Linked DNA regions of Homo sapiens. The protein of the gene in region 2 interacts with the protein of the main gene of each other region in a pairwise test. Each region holds a gene or a part of one and is shown on either strand. Other genes may lie near its edges.

The links. Proteins that work in one complex are often made in the same cells at the same time.
Region 1: the proteins of DRG1 (region 2) and CLDN1 interact in a two-hybrid assay, tested with the Homo sapiens proteins (one large-scale study listed by BioGRID and IntAct).

What each region holds. Positions count from the first base shown.
Region 1 is NC_000003.12:190,308,947-190,312,446, reverse strand, and holds part of CLDN1 (claudin-1), read left to right. Parts: intron 1-2,193; coding exon 2,194-2,278; intron 2,279-3,500.
Region 2 is NC_000022.11:31,420,104-31,423,603, reverse strand, and holds part of DRG1 (developmentally-regulated GTP-binding protein 1), read right to left. Parts: intron 3,349-3,500; coding exon 3,179-3,348; intron 325-3,178; coding exon 194-324; intron 1-193. UniProt on the Homo sapiens protein: Catalyzes the conversion of GTP to GDP through hydrolysis of the gamma-phosphate bond in GTP. Appears to have an intrinsic GTPase activity that is stimulated by ZC3H15/DFRP1 binding likely by increasing the affinity for the potassium ions.

The sequences.
Region 1 (3,500 bases), on a different chromosome or scaffold from region 2:
GAAAAATAAGGATAGCATTCCAGCTGGGCAGATCTAATTCGAGAATAAACAGGATGTGCCTGTAGATCAATGAAAAGAAAGGCCAACTGGAGTAGAGGTGGCCTGTTGGAATGGTCAGTTTAAAGCAGTTAGGAAAAAAAAAATACAGAAATACCTTTAAATTTTTTTGATAAAATAATATTATATTTTCCATTTAAAATAAATACGTGTTTTTTAGGCCAGGTGTGGTGGTTCACGCCTGTAATCCCAGCACTTTTGGAGGCTGAGGAGGGCGGATCACCTGAGGTCGTGAGTTCAAGACCAGCCTGGCCAACATGGTGAAACCCCATCTCTACTGAAAACACAAAAATTAGCTGGGTGTGGTGGTGCACGCCTGTAATCCCATATACTCCAGAGGCTGAGGCATGAGAATCACCTCAACTCGGGAGCCGAGATCGCACCACTGCACTCCAGCCTAAGCAACAGAAGACTGTCTAAAAAAAAAAGAAAAAAGAAAAGAAAAGAAATATCTGTTTTTTAATTCAAGTGTTGATTGATAAGTTACATTATGTGTCATTTGAGAAAATCAAAGTCAGAAAACATGGACAGCATTATTTCAAAGCTTTATAATAATGCCTATTTAAAAAATTATAGTGTATGTATACTTACGTGTGTATATGTACATACATATGCAATCTCTCTGTGTGTATATATATATCTTTATATCTATACACTGTGTTATATATGTTGATAATCTCCATATAAATTATACAGCTATAATAATAGACTACTATATGTTCTCTATATTAGGTATTAGATGCATATATTATATATGTAGTATATTATAGTATATTATTTTAAAAAAATAACAGATATAATTAATGATACAAATCTACTAATAGAAAAAAACTAGAATAGACTTTATTTTCTTATTTTCTTTTTGACAGAAGACTTGTAGGGGCTTTTGCTTCAGTATAATATGTCAGTTTAACCAGTAATTGAGGAAGAGTATCTGTGGCTTTGCTAAAGATGTGGTTAGTTTAAAATGACCAGTCTCTCAGTTTACCCAAATACAAATTGACTCCTCTCTGAAAAGGCATGGATAGTGTCTTATTCCCAATAATTTACTCTTATATCAAAGGCTGCGAATAGTAATCTTTGTGGCCATCGTGGCATGAAGTGTATGAAGTGCTTGGAAGACGATGAGGATGAAATGCATTGCATTCTTCCTTCGCTTGCCTTCTTGTAACTCCCACATGTGACTGCATCACTCCTATTCCAGTTTCAGGGACTTCTCTTAGGAGTAAGCATCACAAGTTCAAGACCATTCGCATGGTCTATTTGAGAAGCCAAAAGCAATAGTGTTTTCTGTCATGTCTAGAGGCAATTACATTGGACCATGTTTTTGGCTGGGGAGAGACAGTAGCATAGAAACATCTAATCTATCTATATTGATGAATACTTAGAATTACTACAAAAAAGTTATTTAACTTTTTTGATAAAAAAATGAAGTATTTTATACATCTTATAAATGATTAAGTGAATGATTTTGACTAAATGATTTCTCTGCTATCATTGAATATAAAATGCCATGGGAAATTGAGATTGGGTTGCATAAATTGATCTGATGTGGCACCCTCAACAAATCTCAGGCCAACCTATACCTATATCAGGTATTCCCTTGGCCAATGGGGCAGTAGTAATGCAGGTATTCTGGTCCATTCTGAGACATGTCCTGATCTCACTCTATCTAGCTGCTTGCATTCCTTTTGACTCTGCAGAAATGTAAATTTTGAGTTTGATCAAGAACATAGAAGAGTTTTCATCTTCCCCTTTTGCAAGTAATTCTACCTGTACTAATAATGACAATAGTTTTATCAAATGTAGTTTAGTATCCTAATGTATAACAGCATATTTAAAAGAGATTTTGTACAACATACACCTGCCTAATTGTTTCCAAAAAAGAATTATTTGTGCCAAGATATCATAAAAAAGTATAAATTTTGTCTAATGCCAACCTAGTATTTTTTTATATTTTAATAGATACTTGGAATAAATCATATCTGGACTTCTAATCTCCCTAATACCAAAATAAAAATGTCAACACTATTGATGAGATTTAATTCTTGCAAAATATGTTTTGGTTTAACAGGTTGTGTATTTAGGCTCAGTGTTCCATGGTGATTAACAGTCTTTTGTTTTGAATTTCTATAGGTCTGGCTATTTTAGTTGCCACAGCATGGTATGGCAATAGAATCGTTCAAGAATTCTATGACCCTATGACCCCAGTCAATGCCAGGTAACGCTATTCAGGCGTAAAATAGTTTGTTTTCTGAGAAAATGCCCTTTTTATATTCTACAAAGTCCTGCTAGTGCCATCATTTCCCAGATTTGCTTTCAAGAATTTTATGTCAAACCTACAAACAATTTAAATGATCTCTGACTTATGTCAAAATGAGTTTGATAATTGCTTTAACACCCTGTATTGATGACAAAATACCTTCCAAAGTAGAAAAGTTTCAAGCTCTGTGCTTTTCAACTGTATAACTGGGCTTTCTTTTGTTTGTTTTTTCAAATATTAATAAAGATGTTAATATATTTGAAATTTCCTTTTTGAAGTGTATTCTGATGTTTACAACACCTACCTAAGATTATTTGTAACTAATGCACAGTTTATGATTGATTGAGAAAAATTATACTACTATAGGGGTTAATGAATAATACTTCATTCCCAACAGTTCATTTTTACACGTAAAGCTATTATGTATGTTTTTAGTATGTTCAGATACCACCTTGAAATTTTTTGTTCTTTCACAACTGTAAAATTGGCTTTACAAAGGTCATCTTTCTTAATACTGCAGGTTGTGCAAGTTGAGCTGATTCTTAGCTCTCGTGTAACAACATTCTTTAATCAGAGACGAGGCTCTTCATCTCACTGTCTTCACATCTTTAATGCCTAATAACTACATTCAGTCAGGATGTTAAAATATAATTATTGTTTGTTGAGTGCTTAGATGAATGGATGAAAAACCTCAGTGTTTGGAGAGATAAGATGTGTTTCTTTTTATATAATCACCCACATATGGGAGAACACATACTGCAATGGTTGTGTTGGAGCCCATCCCATAAGATTTACAGTGTAAGAATAGAAACTGCTAGAGGTCAGTAGGCTAAAATTTCGCCAAGGTAATAACACCAGTAATGCACAGGAAAGCACTTTATAAATTGCCAGCCATTTTGCAATTGTTATTTACATTATTGCATGTGATCCTAAAAGCAGTCTATTGAGGCAGGTGGGATTATCCTGCTTTGAGAGTAGGAGAAACTGAGGCTGAGAGGTGAAGTTGCTATCCCAGAATTGCAGCAGTTGAGAGTCTGCATCAGGATTTAGACTTGGCCTTATAACTTATAGAACCAACCCTTCTCTACTCTTCCGTATTGTCCATAATCACTCACAGATACCCCACCCTAAGTGTCTGCTTTAATACATCTGCCTGGATCAGCTTAATCCAGAATGGTTC
Region 2 (3,500 bases):
AGTGAGCTGAGATCACGCCACTGCACTCTAGCCTGGGCAACAGAGTGAGACTCCATCTCAAAAAAAAAAAAAAAAAAAAAGACAGTAGGACAACTGGAATTAAGATAAACTTCTGCCAGATTCAAGATCCAATACTGTTTCCATCACAAGGCTTCCAATTCAGTCAGGCACAGACTGCACACTCAGTCAGTACCTGTTTCCTTCCACCACATCAATGAGGTCATCAGCTGTAGCATCACTACGTAGAGTCACATCGGCATTATGAATCTTGTATTCAGCCAGAATGCTCTTCACAGTTTCAGCATCCAGCTCACTCTGGGGGCACTGAAAGGGAATAGCAGATGACTAGTCAGCACAAAATTTAAAAAAAATACTTGTCAAGTGTACCAATATCCATGTACCTGGAAAATTCTAGCTAAGATGCAAACTCATTACTAAATACATCCGGGATGAGTGTCACTGACTTTTAGTAGGAAATAAATGTCCAAACTCCAAGGAAGGTGTTACACGCTGAACTGTGTTCCTCCTTCCCCCACCAAATAATTCACATGAAGTCTTAACCTCAGTATCTCAGAATGTGATGTATTTGGAGATAGGGTCTTTAAAGCGGTAATCAAATTAGAATAAGGTCATTAGGGTGGGGCCATAATCCAATACTGGTGGTCCTAATAAGAAAAGGAGATTAGGACACAGACACACAGAGCAAACACCATATGAAGTCCCATCTGTAAGCCAAGGACAGAAGCCTCAGAAGAAATCAACCCTGCCATCAACTTCATCTCAGACTTCTAGCCTCTAGAATTATGAAAAATAAATTTCTGTTATTTAAGCCACCCATCTGTGGTACCGTATTATGGCAGCACTGAAACTAACACAGAAATAATCTTAAATGTTCAAATTTGAATATTAAGACGGGATAATGGGAAAGATGTTTTGGGCAGGACAGCTGAAACCTATGCCAGTCAAATCATCTGGGCTCTGAAGTGTTAAATTTAGTAGGAAACTCTCAGTCCTCAATTCTGACAGAGAAGCAGCATTTGACAGAATTGGTCACTCCTATGTGAAACACTTTACTTGGCTTCCAGTATTTCAAACTCTTTCAGTTTTCCTTCTCTCTCTTGGTCTAAGAAGTCTTATTTCTCTGAGTCTCTTTTCTTTCTTTTTTTTCTTTTGAGACGGAGTTTTGCTCTTGTTGCCCAGGCTGGAGTGCAGTGGCGCGATCTCAGCTCACTGCAACCTCCGCCTCCTGGGTTCAAGCAATTCTCCTGCCTCAGCCTCCGAAGTACCAGGATCACAGGCACGTGCCACCACGCCTGGCTAATTTTTGTATTTTTAGTACAGACAGGGTTTTGCCATGTTGGTCAGGCTGGCCTCCAACTCCTGACCTCATGTAATCTGCCCACTTCGGCCTCCCAAAGTGTTGGGATTACAGGCGTAAGCCACCGTGCCTGGCCGATTCTCTTTTCTTTTCTTTCTTTCTTTCTTTTTTTTTTTGAGACGGAGTCCCGCTCTGTCACCAGGCTGGAGTGCAGTGGCGTCATCTCGGCTCACTGCAACCTCCACCTCTTGGGTTCGATTCTCCTGCCTCAGCCTCCCGAGTAGCTGAGATTACAAGTGCGTGCCACCATGCCCGGCTAATTTTTGTGTTTTTAGTAGATACAGGGTTTCACCATGTTGGCCAGGATGGTCTCCATCTCTTGACCTTGTGATCCGCCCACCTCGGACTCCCAAAGTACTGGGATTACAGGTGTGAGCCACTGCACCCAGCTCTCTTTTCTTTTCTATCTATACTCACATCCTTGGTGATCTCAGTTAGGCCCATGACATTAAAGTTGATAATCACCAAATTTATATATCCAGCCTAGATAATTCCTCATGCCTTCTTTATTATTTTTATAGAGATGGGGTCTCACTTTGTTGCCCAAGCTGGTCTTGAACTCCTGGGCTCAAGTGATCCTCCTGCCTCAACCTCCCAAAGTGCTGGGATTATAGATGTACAGGCATGAGCCACCATGCCCAGCCTACCCCACATGCCCTCTTGACTGAAATACCTGGATGTCTCACTGGCATCTAAAATTTAACATCCTGATCTTCTCCTTCCCTCCAAATCTATTCTACCAAAAGTCCTACCATTTTAGTAATAAGAGTTCATTTTTTTTTTAGCTCAGGAAATAAAAAACATGGCTGGGTATGGTGGCTCATACCTGTAATCCCAACACTTTGGGAGACCGAAGCAGGAGACAGCTTGAGGCCAAAAGTTCAAGACCAGCCTGGGCAACATGGCAAATCTCCGTTTCTACCAAAAAAAAAAAAAAAAAAAAAAATTAGCCAAGCCTGGAGGCATGTGACTTAGCCCTAGCTACTTAGAAGGCTGAGGCAGGAGGGTCACTTGAGCCCAAGAGTTTTGAGCTAACAGTGAACTATGATTGTGCCACTGTACTCCAGCCTAAGCAACAGAATGAAACCGACCAGCCTGGCCAACATGGTGAAACCCCGTCTCTACTAAAAATACAAAAGTTAGCTGGGTGCGATGGCAGGCACCTGTAATCCCAGCTACTCAGGAGGTTGAGGCATGAAGCAAATGCTCTTCTTCAAGATATCCACTTGGTTCACACCTTCATGTCACCTCAGTAAAGACTTCCCTGACCAACGTTCTTAAAACTGCAACCCTCACACCAACACTCTTATCTCCTTTCCCTACTTTGTGTTCTTATATTTATCATTGACGAATACATTATATTTTACTCATTAACATTGTTTTCTATTCTATCCAATTAGAATATAAAAGCAGGGGGTTTCACTATTCCCTCTTCCATTCCTGCCCAGAGCCTAAAATAATGCTTGGCCCGTGGTAGGCACTCTATAAATTTGTGTTAAATGAATGAAAACAGAAGATATTGGCGGCCATCTACTTTATGCAAGCATAATATTGGTCCACACGCCCATATCATTCCCAATAGATAATCCAAAAGAGGAAATAAGTAGCAAAGGTAAGTCTGAGACTGGCTCCTATCCTAATCTTGAAGTTTTTCTTGTCAGTCATTATAAAGTCATTGTGTTATCTCAATTAGTGCAGGGAAAAGCCAGGAAATTTTCCAATGTCAGGGTCCATGCACCCCAATCCACTCCCCATTCCAATTCCTGCAGCAGCCTGCCCCATGTCATATTCCCCACTTACAGTGGCTGTGAGATTAATGCCTCCCTTGTCCTTCTTCTTAAAGCCAATGTTGGGGGGTTTGCTGTTCAAGCGAATGCCAAAGCCTTCCAGCTCATTTTCAATTATCTTCTTATGTCCCAAAGGTTTCAGGACATCCAGAACAATCAAGATCAAGTTACAGGTTCGGGCCACTGAAGAGTAAGAAAAAAACATACGCAAGAAAGTTCAATAAAGCCTTAACTAACCCAAATACTCAAGTAGAGGTGTTTTTTCCCCCTACATTTAAGTGTCAAAGGATTTTTCTGTAATACATACATGCATACGTGAAGTTCTTATAGCTACA